Linked DNA regions of Homo sapiens. The protein of the gene in region 3 interacts with the protein of the main gene of each other region in a biochemical or structural test. Each region holds a gene or a part of one and is shown on either strand. Other genes may lie near its edges. The genes, in order: RASGRP3, SELL and PRKCQ.

What was found.
Region 1: of the proteins of PRKCQ (region 3) and RASGRP3, one has a biochemical effect on the other in vitro, tested with the Homo sapiens proteins (one study listed by BioGRID).
Region 2: the proteins of PRKCQ (region 3) and SELL form a complex in vitro, tested with the Homo sapiens proteins (one study listed by BioGRID).

The regions. Positions count from the first base shown.
Region 1 is NC_000002.12:33,471,636-33,480,223, reverse strand, and holds the start of RASGRP3 (ras guanyl-releasing protein 3), read right to left. Parts: upstream 3,576-8,588; 5' UTR 3,517-3,575; intron 1-3,516. UniProt on the Homo sapiens protein: Guanine nucleotide exchange factor (GEF) for Ras and Rap1.
Region 2 is NC_000001.11:169,694,078-169,701,950, reverse strand, and holds part of SELL (L-selectin precursor), read left to right. Parts: intron 1-262; coding exon 263-391; intron 392-5,397; coding exon 5,398-5,416; intron 5,417-7,873. UniProt on the Homo sapiens protein: Calcium-dependent lectin that mediates cell adhesion by binding to glycoproteins on neighboring cells. Mediates the adherence of lymphocytes to endothelial cells of high endothelial venules in peripheral lymph nodes.
Region 3 is NC_000010.11:6,478,896-6,486,768, forward strand, and holds part of PRKCQ (protein kinase C theta type), read right to left. Parts: intron 7,250-7,873; coding exon 7,140-7,249; intron 6,375-7,139; coding exon 6,257-6,374; intron 4,706-6,256; coding exon 4,545-4,705; intron 271-4,544; coding exon 97-270; intron 1-96. UniProt on the Homo sapiens protein: Calcium-independent, phospholipid- and diacylglycerol (DAG)-dependent serine/threonine-protein kinase that mediates non-redundant functions in T-cell receptor (TCR) signaling, including T-cells activation, proliferation, differentiation and survival, by mediating activation of multiple transcription factors such as NF-kappa-B, JUN, NFATC1 and NFATC2.

The DNA.
Region 1 (8,588 bases), on a different chromosome or scaffold from region 3:
AAAATACAAAAAAATTAGCCGGGCATGGTGGCGGGCGCCTGTAGTCCCAGCTACTCAGGAGGCTGAGGCAGGAGAATGGTGTGAATCCTGGAGGCGGAGCTTGCAGTGAGCCGAGATCTCACCACTGCACTCCAGCCTGGGCGACAGAGCGAGACTGTCTCAAAAAAAAAAAAAAAAAAAATTCCTCTTTCATGCTATAAATAGCTTGATCTTCAAAATGTGTAATCTTGCCAGAACGACCTTGCAGAAACACTGATAACTTCCTCAGAAACATCCACACATGGCATACTTGCTTGATTTTCCTCCTGATTAATAAAAGGTTCCCTGTTGATTACATACTACCTGGTGCTCTTTCCCATTATCTCCAACCCTAATTTTGACACTTAACCTAAAGTGGAGGAATGTGGACAGCCAAATGACATTTTTAAAAGGATTCAGGAGGCAGGTTTCTTAAGGGCTCTGCAAGTCTGATGACCCAGAAAATCCACAGGTTTATGGCCCACCCGTGAGACAGTCAGAGCTTTAGATATGCAACTGGTGTGTGGAGAAGTAGGACTCAGGGTAAATGGCAGGTGCAGGCAGTGAAGAAAAGCATACCTCTCCTCCCTCACCACTGCCAGCTAGTCCCCTGCCCCGTGACCCACCCCTTACACCCACAGCTCAAAAAAACAGCGCAGAGTGGCAGAGTGCATGGTTTCTATTCATCAACAACCTACTCGGACAACCAACCTTCCAGGCTGAGCAAAGGGGATGGGTCTGATAATAGCTTTATCAACACTAAGCCAGCTATTTGGGGTGGGGCATGGGTGGAGTGGCTGTCCTCCAAAGGAAAGGAGTGACAGGAAAACTGGAGGGAAAGGCCAGAAGGGGCATGGGAGCCGTGTGCTGGAGGTTAATAACAAAGTTCCCGGTTGCTGTTCTTACCAACATCAAGACCGTCACTGAACTATTTTCAAAGAGAAAAACATGCCACCAGCCAGCGATCCTATAGAGAGAGCTTGGGCTTGGACTGTCACAGGGGGAAACCTAGCCCTTCCTGTCATGGAGAGCTCGAAAAGGGCATAACACACATTGTGTGTGTAATCATATTGTGCTGGAAATACTCTCATTTGCATGTTGTGAGTTTTTACATTTAAATGTGTGGGATTCCACTTTTATTTTTTAATGTATACAGGTTCTACAGTCAGATCCAGGTGTCCCTCCTGTCTGTGTTACATATGGTCAAGTAACTAAGGGTGTCCCTCCTGTCTGTGTTACGTATGGTCAAGAACCTCAGTTTCCTATCTATAGAACTGGAATAATAATATGTAACACATAGAGTTATTGTGAGGAGACTATGAAAATAAATACACTTGTTTAGCGCATCATTTGGCAGAGTAAGTGCACAATAAAAGTAAGGGATTGTTATTAGCGTTGAAATTATGATGGAAGCCTTGAGCTCTCTCTTCTGGCTCTGCACCGTAACTCCGATAAATTTGCTACAGTTTCCTCATCTTTGATACGAAAGAGTTAAATCGCACATTCTATCATTCCTATCCAGGTCAAAAAGTCTTTGAGTCAATGGATGTACTATCTGCAAGTAAAATCATTATTTTTTATTATTTTGCTATTAATATTTTGAAAAGGCATGGGTTTTTCAAAGGAGCCTGTTGGCTCTCAAAAATACAGCAGTTGGATAATTCAACTGCTCCCATTTAGACATTCCATTTTATTATGGGAGGCTCGATGATTCCGGAGACACAATTTCACCAGAGGGTTCTCTTCCACTATCAACCTGTGGAAAATCTGAAACTATACCAGGAACAAACTCCCTAAAGAATGACTCAGGAGGAACCCCCTCCCCCAGCAGTCAGACAGGGAAGTCACAGACCACATGGCCGCGGGCTGACCCAAGGACCTCACACAAATGCCATACCGAGGAACAGAGAAGTTGGGACTATTTTTCCTCATTGGCCACTCTACATTTTGTGGATTCTTCTACATTTGAAGGAAAAGAAGGTGGAGAACTTCTCAATGTCAGACTAGCCATTTGTTTAGACAGGGCATCCGAAACTGCTTCCATCAGAGAACATTGGTTGGTGCGGTACTCAAGACCCACTGTGCTGAGGGAAACTCGATCGCAGAAGTGCCGTGCCCTGGGTCATTTTTAATCCATTCTCCACAAACAACAAAGGATGGTAAGGGTGGGGAGAGAACAGTGTTCCCTCATGGCAGGGGGCAGAGGGCGAAAGAAAACCGTATAGCTTGAGCCTGTATGAGAATCCATTTGTCACACGAGGAAACAAGCGCACTCCAGGTTGTCCTAGGCTTATCACAAGCAAAACAACTATTTGGTGAGACTTCAAATAAAAACAGCCCCTCTCTGCCCACCCTCCTCAAGATCCACGCGATCTCCAGAAACAGGAACCTGTTTGGTTATCTCCCTGCAGCCTCTGATTCAAAGACCTGTCACTTTCAGAGCTTTACGTCATCAGTTTAGAGCTCTGCCCTCTCTCTTTTCCCCTTTTGCCTTTCCTCTGAAGCATTCTGTCTGGTGACTACCAAGGAAGGACAAAAGTCACCGAACAACAGCTCAGTTCCAGCATGGTGCCTGCTTTGCTGCTCGCCCAAGCGCAAGCACCATTACTGCTGAATGAACCTGAGAAGGAGCCGGTTCTCTCCGTAATTTGGATGCCAGGCCTCCCAGAGTTAATCATCAGCTGCAGGCAGCACTTTCCCAGTCAGGTCATAAACAAGGAAAAAACAGCCTGAGTATCACGAAAACACTAAAATAAGGAAGACCAGCGGCAACCGAACATTTTAAAGTAATGAAGGTGAAGGAAGACCAGGGGCAACTGAACATTTTAAAGTAATGAAGGTGAATTAGCTTGTTGGGGGGAAAAAAAGTCGCTATAAAATACAGCTTTCAATTAGTTGGAAACCATGCAAGAAATCTAAATATGATTTCTAATGTGAATCTAAATATTATTTTGTCAGTCTTCTATATTGCAGACAGTTCTACACAGTTAAATGAGATATTCTCAAAAATTGAATAGGAAAAATCAAATCAGCCATACAATAAATTCACAAGTTACTTTAAACAACTACGTTTTCAGGTTTCAGTGGTAGAAACAGATTAAAATCAAATCTAGTCATCAACTCACTTCAATGAAGTCTCTACTTCATAACCTGAACTTGACTTTGAACCTAAACACCATGGACTAGAAAAATCTTGAACACTGGGAAACAAACTTTCTGTTTCCTAGACAGGAATGAAGCCATATGCCCCATTCATCCTCAAAGTTACAAGACACGTTGCCGAAAATAACAGGTTCTAAAAAAGGGCTGTGAAAACACCAATGGCTGTTAACAGGTACAAATAAAATATCTCCTTCTATCGTGCCAGAGGGAAACCAAAATCAAAATCAAAAGTTGTTGGTGGCTTGCAACACACACACACACACACACACACACACACACACACACGGAGAGGGAATGAAAGAGAGAGAGAGAGAGGAAAGTTCTCCAGTTACTTACTAGGGTGGTTTTGTCGTGGTATTTTTCACATCAGCACTCTGCCTGTCCAGCTGCCAAGTGCCGGAGCACGCCGAGAGCAGCTGTTTCCTTCAAGCTGGGGCTCTGAGTCTTAACCAGTCACATGTACCTCCTGATAAATACCGCCCGCCACCGTGCCAGGAGGTCAGAAACTGAAGATCATTCTTCTCCTCACTCGCAAACCACCTCATAACCCCTGAGTTGGCTCAGCCATCTCATGAGCATGCAGAGCGGGATATTCCACAATTTGTTTTCCTTTAGTGACAAAAGCCAAACAGCTGATAAGTCACACTGAAGGGCAGGTCACTGCAAGTGGAAAGTTAAATGTGTTTGCGTGTGTGTGTGCGCAGAGGGGGAGACTGGCAGGCTCCATGCTCTCTCATCTCACTCAAGTTTCACTGGGGCTCTCGAACGGCAAGAGAGAGGATCACCAACTCGCACAGCAGGTGGAAGTTGCTCTGTGTTAACCCCGGAGTACAACTGTTTGGTTTCGTTTTCTCAGAATCTCAGGCTCCAGTTTGTTAGACGAGCCACAAGCCTGACTAGGTGGCTGGTGCTGGGGAAGGCAGACCCTCACTCACCATCTAAGAATGCTTAGGTTGGACTTCAAAGGCCGGGGCTGCTAAGCCAAGGGACGCTGAGGGGCAAATATGGGAGGGGTTAATGAAGACTATCAAAGGCAGCTTTATCTGAAGAGCTCTTGGAAGTGATTTCAGGTAGCTTTAGACCAAACTTCCGCATTGTTATCTGTTGAATTGCATCGAGCAGCTGAGATTATCAGCCGGCGAGTGTGAATGCAAACAGAAATTATCACCAAGTTGACAACGCGCTTTACAGACGCACTACTGCCCCCTTTGGTGTGCTGGGAACTTGGAGCAAACTGCCGTTTTCTGTGCTGCTCGCAAACGTGGCAAACCATCCCTGATGTTTTGTTGAATTCATATGTCTCACCTGAGCTGATGTTCCCACCCTTCCCTTTTCATCCTCCCTTCCAAGGAAAGCCCTTGAAGTATCTGACTTTACGTAGTGTCTGACCTTGGATGTCTGACTTCTTGGTATAGTAAGGGTGACACTTCCCCGAATCAGTGTCTGAGCCTGCCCTTCAGGTAGAGATATGACATAGAGGCAGCCTATTTGGCAAAGTGAACATCCAGAAAAGATGGTTGAAGTCCCCCAGGGGATTTCTGAACCATAATGTGCCTGTTAAACTATTAACCCTGATTTTTAACACATAATATCTTACTCAGTGTAAGAGCCTGTGTGAGTAATCTTTTATATTTAGGCTTTGTCTCATAATTATTTACAGTGTTAATCAAACCAGAAATTTCCCTCCATATAGAGGATACAGTGTTTTCTAGAATAAGAGAAAAAGACAAAAAACCCTCAGTCTCACCATACTATCAGGGCAGTAATTTGTTGTCAACTTGTGAGAGTCCGAAGAGCAAATGGGAGAATTTTGTAAGCACCAAAACAAATCCCTTCCTCAGCATTTCAAGTTAGTAATAGAAATAAACTTCAGATATAAAAATGCAATGCATAAAATACACATTTCCCTCACAGGCATTTTTGTTTATGTGTTGATGTGACAATCTTCAATTAGAAACAGAAAAAGAGGCCTACTGAGGATTTGAAACATTATTTTGATTTACTTACCCCCTTGTATTTACAGTAATAGAAACTTTTGTGATCTGATGGCATCCATCCATCACTTTGTTTACCATTGACTGGGTTAATTATTCTGATGATCCATTGCATGCCACATAAAGAAACAGGGACTTCTAGAAACTCTTCAATGCCCAACAGCGACAACAGCCTCAGGAAAGTTAAGTTGTATTAGTCCATTCTTGCATTGCTATAAATACTTGAGACTGGGTAATTTATAAAGAAAAGAGGTTTAATTGGTTCATGGTTCTGCAGGCTATGGAGGAAGCATGATACTGGCATCTGTTCGGCTTCTGGGGAGGCCTCGTGAAACTTACAATCATGGTGGAAGGCAAAGTGGGAGCAGATGAGTCACATGGCCAGAGCAGCAGCAAGACAGACAGGGGGCACTTCTAAATGACCAGCGCTTGCCAGAACTCACTATCAGCTGGGTGTTGTGGCTCATGCCTATAATCCCAGCACTTTGGGAGGCTGAGGAGGGTGAATCACCTGAGGTCAGGAGTTTGAGACCAGCCTGGCCAACATGGCAAAACCCTGTCTCTACTAAAAATACAAAAATTAGCCGGGCGTGGTGGTGTGCTTGAACCTGGGAGGCAGAGGTTGCAGTGAGCCAAGATCAAGACCGCACCACTGCACTGCACTCCAGCCTGGGCAACAGAGTGAGACTCTGTCTTAAAATAAACAAATAAATAAAAGAACTCACTCACTATCATGAGAACAGCACTAACAGGATGGTACCAAACCATTAATGAGAAATCTGCCCCTAAGATCCAATCACTTCCCACCAGGCTCCACCTCCAACACTGGAAATTACATCTCAACATGAGATTTGGGTGGGCACAACATCCAAACTACATCATAAGTGTAAAGCAGGAGTCCCCAGCCCCCATGCCATGGACAGGTACCTGTCCATGGTCTGTTAGAGGCCAGGCTGCACAGCAGGAGGTGAGCAGCAGTCAAGGGAGCATGACCATCTGAGCTCTGCCTCCTGTCAGATCAGCTGTGGCATTAGATTCCCATAGGAGCATGAACACTATTGTGAACTGTGCACGCGAGGGATCTACACTGCATGCTCCTTATGAGAGTCTAATGCCTGATGATCTGAGGTGGAACAGTTTCATCCTGAAATCATCTCCATCCCCTCATTCCCGGTCCATGGAAAAATTGTCTTCCATGAAACTGGTCCCTGGTGCCAAATACATTAGGGACCACTGGTGTAGAGGTTCTTTTCTAGTTCTATAGCCAGGAGAGGAAGGGATGGATCCTCAATCCTCCCTATGAAGCAAACTGTTAACACAGAGGCCAAGACCCAGGACCCTTTCAGTCAGAGTCCAGGAGTGTGACTAAAGGTTCTACAATAACACAGCCTTGCAAAGAAATGGGGGAGATCCCATCTTTCTGCCCACACTCCCTACCAGTTCCAAGCATTGTCTTCGACTCAAGAAGAGGTGCCCTCTTCCTGTCAAGAGGCCACCTCCTACCTCGGCTTTGTGTCTCACCCTGTGTCTCCCACCTGCTTAGGACTCTCGACAACAACCACGCCTTCTCTTGCTCTCAGCGTGCGCTCATTAGCTAAACATGCTCACGTTCTCACATTGTCTTTATATCCTAACAACAGTCTTTCTGATTTTTTGCTTTTTTTTTTGAGACGGAGTCTCACTGTGTTGCCCAGGCTGGAGTGTGGTGGCGCGATCTCGGCTCACTGCAAGCTCCGTCTCCCAGGTTCAAGCCATTCTCCTGCCTCAGCCTCCTGAGTAGCTGGGACTATAGGCACCCGCCACCACGCCCAGCTAATTTTTTGTATTTTTAGTAGAGACATGTATTTTTAGTAGTAACATGGGGTTTCACCATGTTAGCCAGGATGGTCTCCATCTCCTGACCTCATGATCTGCCCACCTTGGCCTCCCAAAGTGCTGGGATTACAGGCGTGAGCCACTGCCCCCAGCCAGACTTGCTCTTTTAATTACTGCCCTAACTCCTGCATTCCCTCCACAACTAAACTCCTGAAAAAATACTTGTCTTCACCATCTCACATCCCATTTACTCTCAACCTACTTGTGGCTTGGCTTTTTTTCCCTCACTTCACTGAAACTGCTCTTTCCAAGTCCCCAAAGACCAAAGGCAACCGACACTTTTTGCTTTTTTTTTTTTTTTTTTGAGACGGAGTCTTGCTCTGTCACCAAAGTGCTGGGATTATAGGCGTGACCCACCGCGCCCGGCAATTTTCATGTTTTTAGTAGAGACGGGGTTTCACCATGTTGGCCAGGATGGTCCCGAACACCTGACCTCGTGATCTGCCCGCCTCAGCCTCCCAAAGTGCTGGGATTACAGGCGTGAGCCATCTTACTTGACCTTTTGGCTCTATTTGTCCCAACTGACCAACCACCCCTTGAAAAGCTCTCCCATGGCGTCTATAAAATTTTACTACTACCTCCTTCATCCTCAGGTCTGGGCTTCTCTTCCGCTATCTGCCCCTTAGGTGTGAAAATCCTCTCTTCTCATCTTGCACTCTTACCGCCCCTCATATGTTCTGATTTATTACTGAAGGTCTGCGGTGATTTCCTAATTAATCACCTTGCCTCCAAAAAGCCTGTCTCTGATCTCAATGTATGTTTTACACGCTAGGACTGAAAGCCCCTCCGGGCCATCGTAGGCAACTTTGTATTCCCAGAACCTTCAGGGCTTCACTCCCACTCTAGCTGCCTGCTGCTTTTGTACATTTCGCTGCGGTTGCATTTCTTTCTGTATTATAATTAGGTCTACATGTGTCTGTGTTCCATCCAAACTTTACCAATCTAAGACAAAGCTTATGACTTATTTTATATCCTGCAATGCCTAATACAATGCCTGGCATGTATGAGACACATGGTGGAAACAATCCTCGATGAATAAATGAATAATTAAAGAGAAGGATCTTCTGTCTAGCCCATTAAGAAAAAAATATAAGAAAAGTTTGCAAAACTTGATTTTATATTAGGCTACCAAAAAAAAATTGTAAGTAATTTCTTTCCAAAAGAAATTGGCCATATTCTGTGATCACACTGTAATAAAACTATACATTAATTACAAAAGTGTAAGTCAAAAAGACCCCACGCTCTTGGGGAAACTTTAGAGTTCTTAAAAAAAAAAATCATTGATTGGAGAATAAATTAAAAACACAATTACAGAATGAATGCTTAGAAGGTTTCAGTGATGAGAATACCACATATCAAATATTGGGAGACATAGCCAAAATAATAATTAGAAGCAAACTGACCCAGGAAGAAGTCAAAAAACAACAGATCAGTAACCATGGAAAAATGTAAAAGTTAATAAGGAATTATTTCCAAAAAAAGCTCTTAGTTCAGATTACTTACACAATCAAGTTCTAACTGAGCTTCAAGCAGAATTAA
Region 2 (7,873 bases), on a different chromosome or scaffold from region 3:
AGGTGCATTTTCAGGAACTCTATGAACCACAAATCTGGGCATTGAGATTCTGTAGGCATTAGACTAGCAAGGCTGGTCCAGTCTTTGCCTATGCTGTAGACTCATCAGGGGCCTTCCCATGCCAGTTTCCTCATCTGTCAAATGGCATCAAATGGGCTACTACTGGGAGATGTAAGGAGGAAAAAAGTCAAATATCATGAGATAGACTAAGGAAATAATGCTGGTGGTCTCATGCTATGTGCCTTACTGATTTCTCTTTCAGAATTGGACAAAAGTTTCTCAATGATTAAGGAGGGTGATTATAACCCCCTCTTCATTCCAGTGGCAGTCATGGTTACTGCATTCTCTGGGTTGGCATTTATCATTTGGCTGGCAAGGAGATTAAAAAAAGGTATGTGAGTTTAACTTCACATGAAAAGAACACAACTTTAAAGTGAAAAAGAAAAAAAAAAGAAACCCACAGGAAATTAAATGTGATAGATTCAACACAAGCAGGATGCCAAGCTTTACATTCTAGAGCCATCAGTCCCTGGAGACATGTAAATCAGCCCAGGACACACCTTCATTAAAACAGGTTGGCTGATTTTCGCTTTTCATCTGATAAACTTTTAAAAATGTCTATTACCTTCAAGGCAGCTTGCTAGGCTGATAACAACTAAGTGAGATATTCTAATGGTTCTTTGCTCTTATGTAATTCTTTAATACTTTTTTTTTTTTGAGACAGAGCCTCACTCTGTCACCAGGCTAGAGTGCAGTGGTGCAATTTCAGCTCACTGCAACCTCCGCCTTCTGGGTTCAAGCTATTCTCCCACCTCAGCCTCCCAAGTAGCTGGGACTACAGGAGCGTGCCACCATGCCCAGCTAATTTTTTGTATTTTTAGTAGACACGGGGTTTCACTGTGTTAGCCAGAGTGGTCTCGATCTCCTGACCTCGTGATCTGCCTGCCTTGGCCTCCCAAAGGGCTTGGATTACAGGTGTGAGCCACCACGCCTGGCCTGCTCTTAATTAATTCTGAAAAAATGACACACTATCTCTGTCCTCTAAGAGCCTACATGCCTTGGATTTCAATGCTACAATTCCACTAGGAAGTGGGTCTAATGTCCACTAAGGTTTCAAGGCACTGCTCCCAAATACCTGACCTCTTCAAGAGTCACCTGGTTCCCAACACATGGGCATTGCATTAACCCTGGGAGAAATTCCCATGTATTCTCCCAAGTATCTATTCACCAAGGCCACAGCTCTAACCAAATGCACCATATATGCTTTCCAACCATCCGTCACTGGAGAGGAAAAGAGAAGGAGGACTGCCTTGAGAAGTTAACATCTGCTGCCCAGATTATCACTCCCTTTACCTTAAGGCATGAGTGTGTCTCAGCTTTAAAGTGTGAGCAACCCACTAGCCTGCAGCAGGCCTTGGGTGTATGGTGCCACATTTGGCCAAACTCACCTGGAAGAACCATTCAAGGCTGTAACATTCATGGACATTGGGCAGCTTTTAAGATATACCTGTTTTGGCCAGGTGTGGTGGCTCATGCCTGTAATCCCAGCACTTTGGGAGGCCGAGGCGGGCGGATCATGAGCTCAGCAGTTCAAGACCAGCCTGGCCAACATGGTGAAACCCTGTCTCTACTAAAAATACAAAAATTAGCCAGGCGTGGTGGCGGGCACCTGTAATCCCAGCTACTCGGGAGGCTGAGACAGAAGAATCACTTGAACCCGGGAGGCGGAGGTTGCAGTGAGCTGAGACCGCACCATTGCACTCCAGCCTGGTGACAGAGTGAGACTCTGTCTCAAAAAAAAAAAAAAAAAAGATATACCTGTTTCAAGTTCAGGGATGATCTCGAAACAATTGCTAACCAACTGCTCTGTGTTGCCTTTCTGTGGGCTCAGTTGATTGTCATTTTAATTTTCCTTCCATCAAATTAGTTAGTACGTATTCTGTTCACTGAATATGGTATGTAAAGGTTGCCCCCTGTCCATTTACACTGGCAATTACAAAAATATTATTTATCAGTCCCTAATTGCGTGCCACTCTGATCTTATCTTTCATTTAAATTTGAGAATAGTGGGCGCTAGGTAAGTTTTCTAACCAATCCAGAAAGACAAAGTGTGTGAGGGGGGTGGGGATTGTTGATATGCAAGAACTTCATTAGCTATGTATAACCTGAGAGCACTGAGCAGTTAAAATGTCTCTGCCCTTGCTATTAGAAATTCTGTGCTGATTGAATCTCACTATCTTATAGTATTATACAGTACTAAGTACTATACAGTACTAAGTATAAGTATCAAGTACTGCATTAAGGCAAAAGAAGAATGACAGTTTTCTCCAACCACTGATTATTCTTTCCATTGAGACTTCAAATCTTGACCCCGGTTGTCCTGTCTTTCTTCCTACCTTGGGCGATGATGGCAGAACTGACGGATAGAGAACAGGGTGGGTTATTACACACTGCCCCCTGGGATAAGGTGGCTATTGTCTAAATAATTTTAAGGACTTTGGGGCTGTAAGTCACCTTAATAAGGAAGCTATTTATTTCCGAATTCTAAAATCTTTTAATAAGTGTTTGTAGAATCAAAAGAATAGAATCAAACTCATTTGCATGTAGTGAGGGGTTAGCTGGCTAAGGCTGTTTTATAAGCAAGGGTAAAAAAATTAGAGGGGTTGTTTTTAAATTTTTTACCTTGGAGTCATTTCTGTACAAGATCTCAAACCGATAACTTGAAAACTGCTGTGGGAATCAGTGTGGGGCAAACAGGAAACAGATAACGGGCAGTTAGGCTAGTTACAGTTATGCCAACAAAGAAAACAGAAGCCCCAAAAGATCACTGGCTTGGTAGGAAGCTTAGGGTATCTTTAAGATAACATTAAATAGTCTTCATCTGTGGGCCAGGCACCTTGGCTGTCACCTCTAATCCCAGCACTTTTGGAGGCTGAGGCAGGAGGATTACTTGAGCCCACGAGTTCAAGACCAGCCTGGGCAACATGGCGAAACCACATCTCTACAAAAATACAAAAAATTAGTCAGGCATGGTAGCATGCACATGTAGTCCCAGCTACCCAGGAGACTGAGGTGGGAGGATCACTTGAACCCAGGAGGTCAAGGCTGCAGTAAGCCATGACAGCACCACTGCACTCCACAACAGAGTGAGGCCCTGTCTCAAAAAAAAAAAAAAAAAAAGTCTTCATTTATAAAACAACATCTTCCATTTTCACCAACTTACAAATGATTCTGCTTTCCAAAGATTTTAGTTGTAGGTTGGTCCTTTAAAACATGAAGAGTATTTTTCCTATGGAGGCAATGGTAGAAATAATGGCTACATTCCCAGGCTAAATCTAAGACAAAATATAGTTAATGGCATTTACAAGGATAAAAGTAAAAAGTCATAAATCTCTATGTGTGTGTTTAGGTGTGTGTGTGTGTCTATGTGTGTGTGTATATGTATATATATACACAGAGAGAGAGAGAGAGAGAGAGAGAATTTATAGGCTTTTTGGGTTCTAATAGTTAGAAAAAGGGCACAGGTAACTATTTAGAGCATGGTAGCCAATGAAGTGACTAGAGCCTTCACCCCTATTCTTCTGTCCTCAGATGAATCTTCTGACTCTAGCACTTTGTCCCCTGCCCTAGTAGTCTTAGTATGGAGACTTTCCCTCCTTTCTTTTAGGAAAGGAATAAGGAACAGTTCCAGAAACATGTGTCCTTGTGCATGGGCTCATCTAGACACATTTTGTGCACCAGGCATTATCATTTTCTGATTAGTCACTACCATTGGCCCTGTTTGGTAAATAAGGAAACCAGGGCAATGATGTTTTAGGCCAAATCTCAAAAATACCATATCAGCAGGACCCAGAGTCAGAGATTAGACTCCAGTCCAGATACATCTTCTAAAATCACTGGTCTTCAGATTTGTGAACTGGTTTTTTCCTCGGTTGGAAGAATTTCCCACCAGAACCAACACACAGGGTTAGACCAGGGCATGAAACTGAACACATGCCCCCTTAGTTCCTTTTTCTTCAAAATGAAACTCTCTCAGTAGGAACAGATTCTTACTCATCTATTGCTGTTAGGTTCATCATCCCTAAAAAAAATATTTATGTGAAGCTAACCAGAATCTGAAATTAATTCAGATTTGATTCCCCCTGCTCAAGTGCACTTGGTCATCAGCAGGCTGAATTTTAGAAGAAAAGATTTCAAATAGTAGTCTTTAATACTTTAAAGGATTAAAACAGTAATGCAACACTGTCTACGTGCTAGGACCTGAACTAAATACTTGGAAATATTTTATTTTATCAACCCAATGAGGATGATACAATTATTATGCCTCTTTAACAGATGAAGAAATTGTAGTTTAGAAAAGAAAGTAGCTGTTCAAATACACACTACACTACAGGTGGCAAAATAGGGCTTTCACCTGGGTAGGATGATTCTAGAATGCCACTTTACAGCCACTGAAATATATTGCCTCCCAAATGATTCTTTCTGCTCAAAGAGTTTTTTTTAAGTTATCTACTTATTTATATTCTGCTTTTTTCAAAAAGAATGTGAGAACAGTACAAAATGTGTTCAGTATAGCAAATTAAAATTAATTAAAAAGTAAGAAAAAGAAGCCAATTTGGGCAACCCACTCGGGTCCCCTTCCACGCTGTGGAAGCTTTGTTGTTTCGCTCTTCGCAATAATAAATGAGCTTGATGTTTTATTGAGTACAAAAAAAAAAAAAAGAAAGCCAAATTTAAACTTAGGGTACAAAAATCATTTGGAACCAAGGTTGAAGTTATGGCACAAAAATGTATGTCACAAAGTTTTATATACTTGGTAGGAGAGGGTCTCAGATCTAGCTCTGAGTTTCCTTACAGCCAGTCAAAGGAGAACCATGTGATATTCCTTGTGTTTGTAAGATAAAAACACATTAGTTACTCAGATGAGGCTGCACAATTCCTACCAACAAGACCAAAGTGAAATTCTCTTGTGGATTCTCATAGAGATGATGCTGTGAGCTGTAATGGCACATAGTTTTACAGTATTAGCAGCTGTCCCTCAAGGGAAGAATCTGCAGGTAGGATGAGATGGCAGATTGGGAAGGGATAAACACTTGAATGGACATATTGGGTCTTGCCACCAGGCAATTTAGCAATTCTGTCTTCTTGAGTAGCACGGAGAATGGAATGGAACCTCAGGAGGCATCTGCATCAACATGTCTGTTCTGTATTAGTGTCTACCACTGTTTATTAAGCCAGTTCCTCAAATCTCCTTTGACACAGATAGGGTCCACCTAACAAATACCTAATATACTTCAAAAGACAGTTTTGAGAGTGGGAGTCTTCCTTCTCCCTTACTTGAAAAACTTTAAATTGTCTAATTTTTGCTAATGCCTTTTCTCTATTTTCTATTTTCAGGCAAGAAATCCAAGAGAAGGTAAGTTTTATTAGTGGCGAGGAGTTTCCACATCTGCTGATTCATTCTCTACTTCCTTAAGTTACTTCCTGCTCTAGCTAGACACATTAACCCCATAGTAGTTTATTTACCTGGGGTCCTCATCCAAATGACCAGATAAGGTGATAAATCTACTAGCTTCCTTTCAGAGCTGTGCTTTTTGGTGCTAGTGGAGCTGAATGAATGAATGAACGAACAAGTAATCCCTATTAGAAAAGGGCAGTTTATGTAAAGGGAGATTTTTCTGATTACCTCAGAATTTTTTCTGAGGGTTAAAAACATTGTGGTGTGTTCTTCTTGTTCTTAAATATATTATTTAAGAAATATTCAATTGAACAAGCACTTATTGAGAAATGAATAAATGCTTATTCAATTGACTATTTGCATTCAATTGCTCTAACAGGCATTGTCCTTCAGAAATGTGGGAAAGATAGGGAGCATGAATTCTACCTACAGCTTCCCCAAGGAGGCAAGTATTTTTCAGTTTGGTCTTGAAGCTCAAATTTCTTCTACTGGAGAAATAGCACAGTGGGAGGAGATGCAGACATGTGAAAGTTGATGGCCCACCTGGCAGAAATGAAGATGGAAAAATATTTCTCAGTATCTAGGGTTTAGTGACTTGCTCTGGAATTTTAGGAAGGAGAGTTTAAGTAAAATAAACTATGAAAGGAGGACTTTGGTGACATATTCAGTACCCAGCTGGACAACTGAGCTTCCTTTAAAATGCTAGAAATGAAGTGAGATGATTTCTGAAGGGATTGGATGCTGGTTTGGGCAACCATCCTACCAATCACAAACTTAGTATGGGCCATTGCTTAGAATGCAAAGGAAAAAGTGGGGAAAAATGAGGCACCAGAAGCCAGATCATAAACTAATGTATAAGCCATGTGATATGGGCTTTATCTTGAGGTCTTTTGGGATATCACTAAAGGGGTTTAAACAGTGAGTAGCCTTACCTCTGGCATCTTATAAGGTCACCCTGCAGAGCAGTATGGCAAGTGTGGGAGACAGGTGAGCCTGGATTCAAAGAGACTTGTTTTGGAGGCATTTGCAGTTATTAGATTAAAACCGATGGCGCCTGTCTAGGGAACTAGTAGTAAGAATGGGTTCATGAAATAAGAGGAGGTGATATTAACTGAATGTGTCTGTTAATTGGCTAAAAGTGAGAGAGAAGAATCAAATTATCATCTTTCTCACCTGGAAACTGGCGGATGGTAGTCCTGTTTACTTCTGAGAAGGGAACATAAAAGAATGAGAGGTTTTGGAGGTAAAGATCATGGGTTCAGTTTTGTACTGAGCTTTGGGTGTATGCACATCATTCACTGTGGCTCATTGGACCTATCCAAAGCACAGAGGCTATGGCAGGAGAAGTGGATTTGGGTCCCTCACATTTCAGGAGGTAACTGCCATCTCAGGAGTGGGTACTATCATCCAGGGAGGGTGTGAGTGCTTTAAGAATGGAAGAGGACCTGGGAGAGAGTATGGGAGCCAGAGGAACATCATTATCTAATAAGTCACCTAAGGGAAAGAGAAATGAAAAGATGTTGCCAGGCAGGGAGAAGGAAGAGGAGAAAGAGTGTGGGGTAATGAATGCCAAGGAAACAAAGAAAGGGGAACGGTTTCAAACATTGCCAAGAGAACCAGTAAGTATCCCCTGGATGCAACAAGGGTGTCAGTGGGGAGACTATTTGCAGTGCAGACATCAAGACAGAGGTCAGACGGCCAAGCATTGAGCATTACTGAGGATGAGAAAGTAGAGACAGAACAAGCAGTCATCTCTTTTAAAATGTTTGGCTGTGAAGGAGAAGTGGGGCAGGGGTAACTGGATGAGGATGTACGATCAGTGGAGGTTCTTTTTATTCTTTTTAATTACTCTGTCTTCTCTTTACTAGTGCAAATGGAGTCTAGTGAGGAAAGGCTTCTTTCTCTGGGCTGGTCTCCCTATGTCTGTGGCAGGAAACCCACAGATGTGAAGATTTCTTTCAAACTCGCACCTACTGAGTGAAAGTATTTTCTGGCACAATCTACCCAGAGCTGTTTTCTGGCTACCGGAACCACCTGTTTTAATTGCCACTAGATGGAAGCAGATCAACTAGATTTTTTTTTTTTAAGATGTCCTTGAGGCACAGGAGGAGAGACTGGCTGGAAGAATATTAGCAAAAAGCTAATTACCATGCTAAGCAAATTGCTATATTAAGTTTAATGGTTCACTGATTTTTTATAATCAGTCAATTAATAGTTGTTTATTGAACATTTTTGTGTTGGAAACTGCTAAGCTTTCTTGAGACAGCAAGAGGAGTCAGCCTGGTCCCTGATTTCAGGAAAATTATTACCTAGCTGGGGAGTTAAGACAGGAATATAGAAAGAAAAAAATCAGAAAAATACAAGGCAGAGCATGGTAATGGCCAATGGGTGCTATATTTAAGAAGGAAAAGGTCA
Region 3 (7,873 bases):
AGGCAATGACTCGTGTCTCCTAATGAGGGCGCCATTGAAGGTATCATGCTGAGACAGGTTAGAGGGGAGGTAGGGTTGTCGGAGCAGAAGCCATACCTTGGTCTGGAATGTACAAAACATGTGCGTCAGAAACGGATGCTCCCAGGCCAAGGAAAGAACTCTCTTCTCTACCATCGTGCACTCAACATCATCGTCCATCAAGACCACATCTTTCTTTAAGGCCTTTATTGCGAAAAATTGATTGGTTTTCTTGAATTCTGCCAGGAAGACCTAGAAGGAGAGGGAAGAAGTAACTTTATTTTAGAATTTGGATTCCCATTTCTTAAAAAAGAGACAGAGTCCTGAGAGACACCTGTGTTGGGTGGGAAAAGGGGTTCCTTCTCCAACCCCCATCCATCCTGCATAGGCCATTCCTGAGACAAAATGGAGCACTTCTCTGGTTTCGGACATGACATCACTATTTCATACTATCTTTGTACTCTTTCCAAGGGTTCACAAAATTATTAAGCAATTGAATGGATTTTTAAAAGTGTGCCCTGCCTGCTCAGGGATCTGAGTGAAGGTACAATAAAAATCCAGAGAGATAAAGTGCACAGTGAAGAAAGAAGAGTTGAGTGTGGAGAGGAGAAACTGTACTCGAAACATCACTGCAAGTGCACATAAATCCTAGCTTTACGTTTTACCCAGTTTTTCCAGGCCAAAAGAAGAATGGAGGGATATAGTTCTCCTTGTGTACTTAAAAAATAAACACCGGCCAGGTGCGGTGGCTCAAGCCTATAATCCCAGCACTTTGGGAGGTCAAGGCAGGCAGATCATCTGAGGTTAGGAGTTCGAGACCAGCCTGGCCAACATGGTGAAACCCCGTCTCGACTAAAAAAAAAAAAAAAAAAAAAAAAAAAATCCAAAAATTAGCCGGGCATGGTGGTGGGTGCCTGTAGTCCCAGCTACTCGGGAGGCTGAGGTGGGGAATTGCTTGAACCTGGGAGGCGGAGGTTGTGGTGAACTGAGATCATGCCACTGCACTCCAGCCTGGGCGTCAGAGTGAGACTGTGTCTCAAAATAAAAAAAAATAAATAAGTAAACACCATTTTCTCTGACAACACAGCAATGAATTATTCATAGCAGAATGTATGGCATGTAGTAGGTCCTAAAATGTGACTGACACTGGGTTCAAAGGATAACTTGCTCAGATTCTTCGAGCTACTAGGGAAAGATTTAACTCCGAAGTTTACTTTCCCACTTGATTTCGTGGCTCTCGTATCAAAGGACACCAAAATGGGAATGAAACATTTTAGGACCTACTGTGTGTCATACACTCTGCTACCTACTTTACACTTACGACCTAATTGTATTATCTAATTTAATTCTTAGCTCATCACACTCTGCAAGACAGAAGTTAACAACATCAACAACAAACACTGAGTTCAAAGAATAACTTGCTCAGATTCTTGGAGCTATGAGGGAAGATTTAACTCCAAAATCTACTTTTCCCACTTGATTTTGTGGCTCTTATATCAAAGGACACCAGATGGCATATGATGGAGGGTTTCAACAATTTTAGTTTTTGCAAATGATGCAGCAACACACTGTTGGCAATGGTAAGGGCATGGCATTTGGATACAGAAAATTCTAGCTCTAGTTTTATTTCACAGACATTTATTAGCTGTGGAAATGTGGGCAGATGAATTAGCCCCTCTGGGCTTCAGTTTCCAATTACTACTGCATTCTCTAACTTACAGGACTGTTGTGAAAGTCAGGTAAGATGAGACCTGGGAAAGTAGACTCTAAAATGATCTCTGAATCACAGTTGCTAAAATTCAGTCATTTGTCATTTGTTTCTGTTATTGACTTTTGGGAAAGGCCGAAGTCAATGATGTGACAACAGCCCTGAACATGTAAGTGTCTAGGTTTAAAAGCGACGGAGCAGGTTCGTAGCTTGATGGTAGCTGACTTGATAGAAGGGAAGGGATGAAACTTAGATGGGAATTCAGGCAAATGAATGATGCTCACATCCCCAGAGAACACACAATTTGTTTTCTTAGGCTTAAAATTTGTTTGAGAACAAGGGTATAGAGGTCTTGGTGAGGAAACATACTTTCCACATAAAGCCAGAAGAGAGAGAAAAGACAAGTTTTGGAGTATTCTCAGTGTTGTGAGAAAGAGAAACAGCCATCCTGTCTTGCTTTGATATCTCCCCCTCCTCTCCTCTCCGTGTATAGGGACCCAGGGTCCTGATGAAAAGAAGTAGACAGCTTTGGACATGGAGTGGGGGAAACCTGGGGCTCCCAGCTGCACCTTGGGATACCGACTAAGGCTTGTAGGTTTAACTTAATGTCTTCCTTATTAACCTTATTCAAATGTGGAAATCCACATGGGAACAAAGAAAGATAAACATTTCATTAACAATTAAAAGTCCTCTTTTAGTAATTGCTTCTTTCAGTAAAACACCCTAAAACCAGCCATAAACTAAGAAGCCAAAAAGACAATTTCCATCTATATAATGTGCTTTCAATTTTTGGTAACAGGTTATAATTGCACATTAATTGCTGCTAAATTACAATGAAGACTGGCTGTAACATTGCCTATTATGCTCAGATTAGCACCAAATGAGCCTACTGTGGTTCATATTATTGTGGAACTGAACAAAAAGAATTCCTGAATATCAGCTACCATGTGCTGGACAGAGTCGATTCTGCTGAAAGGCAAGGCATCAGTGTTTAAATCCAAACCCCAAATGGAGCTCAATATTATTCAGCTGTGGTGACCGCTCAGTTGCATTTTAGTTTGTTTAATATTAAATAAACTGGGTAAGACATCCTGCCAAAGTCTGGTGAGCAGTTGTGGTGTATAATGCTGCCTTTGGCTGCACAGATTCATAGAACAGTCATCTCTGATTAAAATTTTCCTGGGAGTCCCATCCAAGAATGTAAAACAAATAGGAGCCCCGTTAATACATGAGATACCCTTAATATCAAAAATTACCTAAAAGCCTATATTCCATATCATCCCTCCTTAAATCACCAGCTTGAAAATTTTCTGCAGTCACCGGTAGTTGGTTATAATTTCTTAAATTATCTCTTCTTCCTTCTTCTCACCTCCCCTTTTTTTTTTTTTTGCTCCTCCTCTCCCTCTTTCCTTCCTCTCCTTGTCATCTGTGAGTGATGGAGACAACCCCCCACCTGCATGTATGGCAGGAAGAATTTAGAGGAGGGACTTTCTCCACAATTTTTTTCCAGGACTCTCAAGCTACAGTTTTCTTATGGGCTGAATTGTGTCTATACTGAAGTTCCAATCCCCAGGACCTTGGAAAGTGACTGTATTTGGAGACAGGACCTTCAAAGAGGTAATTAAGGTTAGATGAGGTTATTAAGGCAGGTCCTAATCCAATATGACTGGTGTTTTCACAAGAAGAGAAAATTTAAGCAGAGTGTGGTGGCACAACTGTAATCCCAGCTACTAGGGAGCTGAGACAGGAGGATCACTTGGGTTCGGGAGGTCAAGACCAGCCTGGGCAACACAGTGAGACGTCATCTCAAAAAAGGAGAACACTTGGATGCAGACATGCACAGGAGGAAGATGATATGAAGGCATGGAGAGAGGGCGACCATTGCAAAGCATGGAGAGGGGCCTGGGAAGAAACAACCCAGACAACACCTTGATGGTGAACTTCCATCCTCCAGACCTGCGAGAACATGAATTTCTGCTGTTTAAGCCAGCCAGTATGTGAGATTTTGTTATAGCAGCCTGTATTAGTCTGTTATCACACTGCTAATAAAGACATGCCCGAGACTGGATAATTTATAAAGGAAAGAGGTTTAATGGACTCGGTTCCACACAGCTGGGGAGGCCTCGCAATCATGGTGGAAGACAAAGGAAGAGCAAAGGGACGTCTTACGTGGTGGCAGGTGAGAGGGCATGTGTAGGGAAACTCCTCTTTATAAAATCATCAGATCTCATGAGACTTACTCACTATCATGGGAACAGCACAGAAAAACCCATCCCCATGATTCAATCACCTTCCACTGGGTCCCTCCCATGACACCTGGGGATTATTACAATTCAACGTGAGATTTGGGTGGGGACACAGAGCCGAGCCCTATCACACCCCAAGGAAACTTATACAAGCTGGAAGATATTTAATAGAGAGAGAAAAAAATCACATGCAAACTAAAACAACACTCCAGGCTTGAGAATGAAGCAAAAGAAGAGAAAACAAAATGAAACAAACACAAACACCGTGTGAAACAGGAAGTGGCTGAGGCACCTTCCTATTTCTTTGGTGCCCAAAGACATCAAACTCATAGGCGTGTGAGATGTACACTCTCCAAGCAAAGTAGCTTTGGAGACACAGGTTTCCAGAAAGCTGAGGCTACTATGGGCCTAGAGCCCTCGGGGTCCCTATTTATTCAGCGCTCCCTCAGGAAAGCTGTCTCTGACACTCACATGCAATCCTAGTGGCCCTATGAGTTTAATTTCTTTGACCAGGAACTTGGCTCATCAGTTCCTGGAGTTGGGCCATAGCATTCTCCCGTGCATTAGCTTACCTTGCCAAAACTTCCTTTCCCCAACATTTTGTGCAAGATAAAATCCTCAATTTTTAGTTTAATCTGCAGAGATGGTCTTTCTTTGTTCAGTTCAGGTTCTGGAAGATGGCACATTTTATCCACCTCATCCAACGGAGACTCCCAGGAAATGCCCTGAGGCTCTGAAAATGCAAGCTGGTGGTTAAAAATGAACATGGAGTAATGGAGGTCATTCTAGTTACTGAGAGCACATGCTTTCTCTTCTACTTCCCATGCTGAGGCTCCATCATAGTAATTGGGGGTGTTTAGAGGGTTTCCTACAGTTCAGGCAGCTTTAATACCTTTCCATCTGTCTGTGAGGGCAGCACCCCCTGTCTGTGAGCCTGGCATTTGGATTTTGGAGTGTGGACTATGTCTCTTTCTTCAATAGACTGGGAAATAGTTCAACTTAAGAAACAAATTCCAATCAGTAAAAGACCATATATGCAAAATACACAAGCACTGTTAATAATGCCACATCAAGGACATCTAGGGATTTTAACCAAATTTTAGGAAAAAAATGATTTTCAATTGTTTGCATGGCTCACAAACACAGTGGCATCAATTTCTACAATTTACAGCGTGAGAGAGACAGGAAATGAAATCTAGCAGATTTTTAAAGATCTGAACTGCATCATTCATCCCAGAATTCAAGTCAAGATGCTGCCTACGTTGGCCGGGTATGGTGGCTCACACATGTAATCTGACAACTTCGGGAGGCCGAGGTGGGCGGATTGCCTGAGCTCAGGCATTTGAGGCCAGCCTGGGCGACATGGTGAAGCCCCATCTCTACTAAAATACAAAGAATTCGCTGGGTGCGGTTGTGTGCGCAAGTAGTCCCAGGTACTCGGGAAGCTGAGGCAGGAGAATCCCTTGAACCCACAGGGCAGAGGTTACAGTGAGCTGAGATTGTGCCACTGCATTGTAGCCTGGGCCACAGAGCAAGACTCTGTCTTCAAAAAAGAAAAAAAAAAGATGCTGCCTATGTTGATCATTGCTAAGACATAGTCTCCTTGACTGCCTGGCAACCCCTCCTAAATGTAACCCAAACCTTTCATTTACATTTTTAAGTTGATTTGAAGTCAGAGAAAACATAAGAGAAATTTTTAGGAATTTCCCCCTGCCTACAATAGTCTCTATATTTTTAAATCCCTAGGTTTATCTTTCATACTCTTCCAAGGACACTAAGTATTTTAGAATGTATGCTGAAACGACTCAGGTCTCAGAAACATGGGTCATATCCACTCATGAACTGCTTTCAAACAGTAGGCTGGAAAAACTGCCATAATGTCATGAAAGTGGCTTTGAGTCCTTCTCTTTCCTACCCTTAAATTTAAGTCTCAAAGGTGCAGAGTAAGAATGTCTTCTGTGGCCTTCCCACCATCAAATTTTAAGACAGATTTATTTCTGTGAAACCATTTGACACTGACAGAATGTAACATGCTGAAACTCTAAGAAAACATTTGTGGTTGTTCCCTCCAGACCTATCCCATTTTCTAACCCCCACCTCCTGCCTTTTACAAAGGTAAAAGGTTTTAGTTTCTTTTCTAAGAAGTGGGAGCCTCTTAGTTGGTAGCTGGAGGTGGATCACCTATCAGACCAGGTAAGCTGATAACTTAAATCCAAGGGCATTAGGTTAGGGTTAATTGAGATTAATGACTGACAGTGATTAGACTGCTGATCAGGACAGCTACCTCTTTTTCCCGGTGTCGGTAAACATGGCGGCCTTGCTTCATTTTTGATGGAGCATGGGAGACCAATTTCAACCGGACCTTCTCTGAAGATCTGTTCAGTATCTCTTAAGCAGCGAGCCTGGATGACAAACAGAGAGTCAGACCACCCACCCACCCACCATTGATGGAACAGCTCAGCCTGCTAACGATGGGGACAAAGGCCATTTAAAATGTTTAAATGCATAGGGTCAACAAAGATCTCCTTATCCTCAACGTTCTTTTGGAACCCCATATTCTGGGAGAGTCTATCTACTGTATTTTATGCATTAGCCGAACACGTTTGCCTCCTTCACACTTTTCTGGGGCTGACAGGATTCTCTCATGCTGTCTACATCATTCCATCACAAATAAGGACAGGTAGTTAATGGATGGGAAAACAGCTGATACAGGCAATGCCAAGTCTTAAAGAGGGTTTATCCTTGGATCTAGGAATTCAGCTAATGCCAAAACAGTAAACAGCAGGCCAAATTTGCCCTGGACTCGGTGTTCCATGAGGATGATGCTAGCACATAAGTGTTTTCCCCCAGGCTATTCTATAACCCGAATATATTCACATAAAGCTGTCAATGAATCTTCAATAACTTTAATGAATTTATTTGTTTCTGCAATGCTCATGCCATGAAGAATTTAAGATTTTATAAAGATCTGCATAATACAAATGCATTAAATAAATATCTCAAAGATAGGGGGTGTGGGCATGGATATGAAAGCCAAGGGCAAGGCCGGTGCTCAGAAATACATCCCGGCATTTCCCATAGGGCTGCCACAGGTGAAGCAGCAGAAGTGCATGGACATCCTTGCTGAGCGGCCATGGCGGGAACGTGTCCACGGCACATGCTCCTACCTGTTGAGTGCTCTCAATCATGGCCAGCGCTTCAGCCATTAGCTTCTGGTTTATGCCACAAAGGTTGGCCACCTTTGTCTGGCATCTATGATGCACATTCATGCCACATGCTGGAAGGAAGAAGGCAGATAGTGAGCAAGAGTGGAAGAACCCCCTGGTGCTAAACAACTCTCTCTGGAGGTAAGACAGAGCCTTGCGGATAGGGAGGAAAGCCTAAAGTGCCACGGCTGGGAGGAAGTTGACCCTGGCTCTCCCTGGTAGTGATCCTCGTGCTGGAAGGGAAGTGAGGTAGGAGGTGGGACTCAACTCTGGAGGTGGGGTTCAGACGCCAGACCAAATTGAAGACTAGCTAAAACAGGGACAGGGCAGAAGCAGCTTTCCAGAAGATGCCCACCTGCGTGCCATGTCAGTTTAGTGTTGCCATGGCAACACCCAGACGTTACCACCCTTTTTCCAGGAACTTAATTTGCATGTAGTTAAAAGTGGTATAAATAGGATTGCAGCACTGCCCTGAGCTGCTACTCTCTGCCTCTGGGGTAGCCCTGCTCTGCAGGAGCAGTCATGGAGCTGTAACACCAACAGAACTGTAATACCGTTGGCCAATGAAGCTGTTTTCTTCTACCAACAGCCGACCCTTGAATTCTTCCTGGGCGAAGCCAAGAACTCTCCTGGGCTAAGCCCCACTTTGGGGCTCACCTGCCCTGCATCAGAAGAATATTCCTGCCCACTCCAGT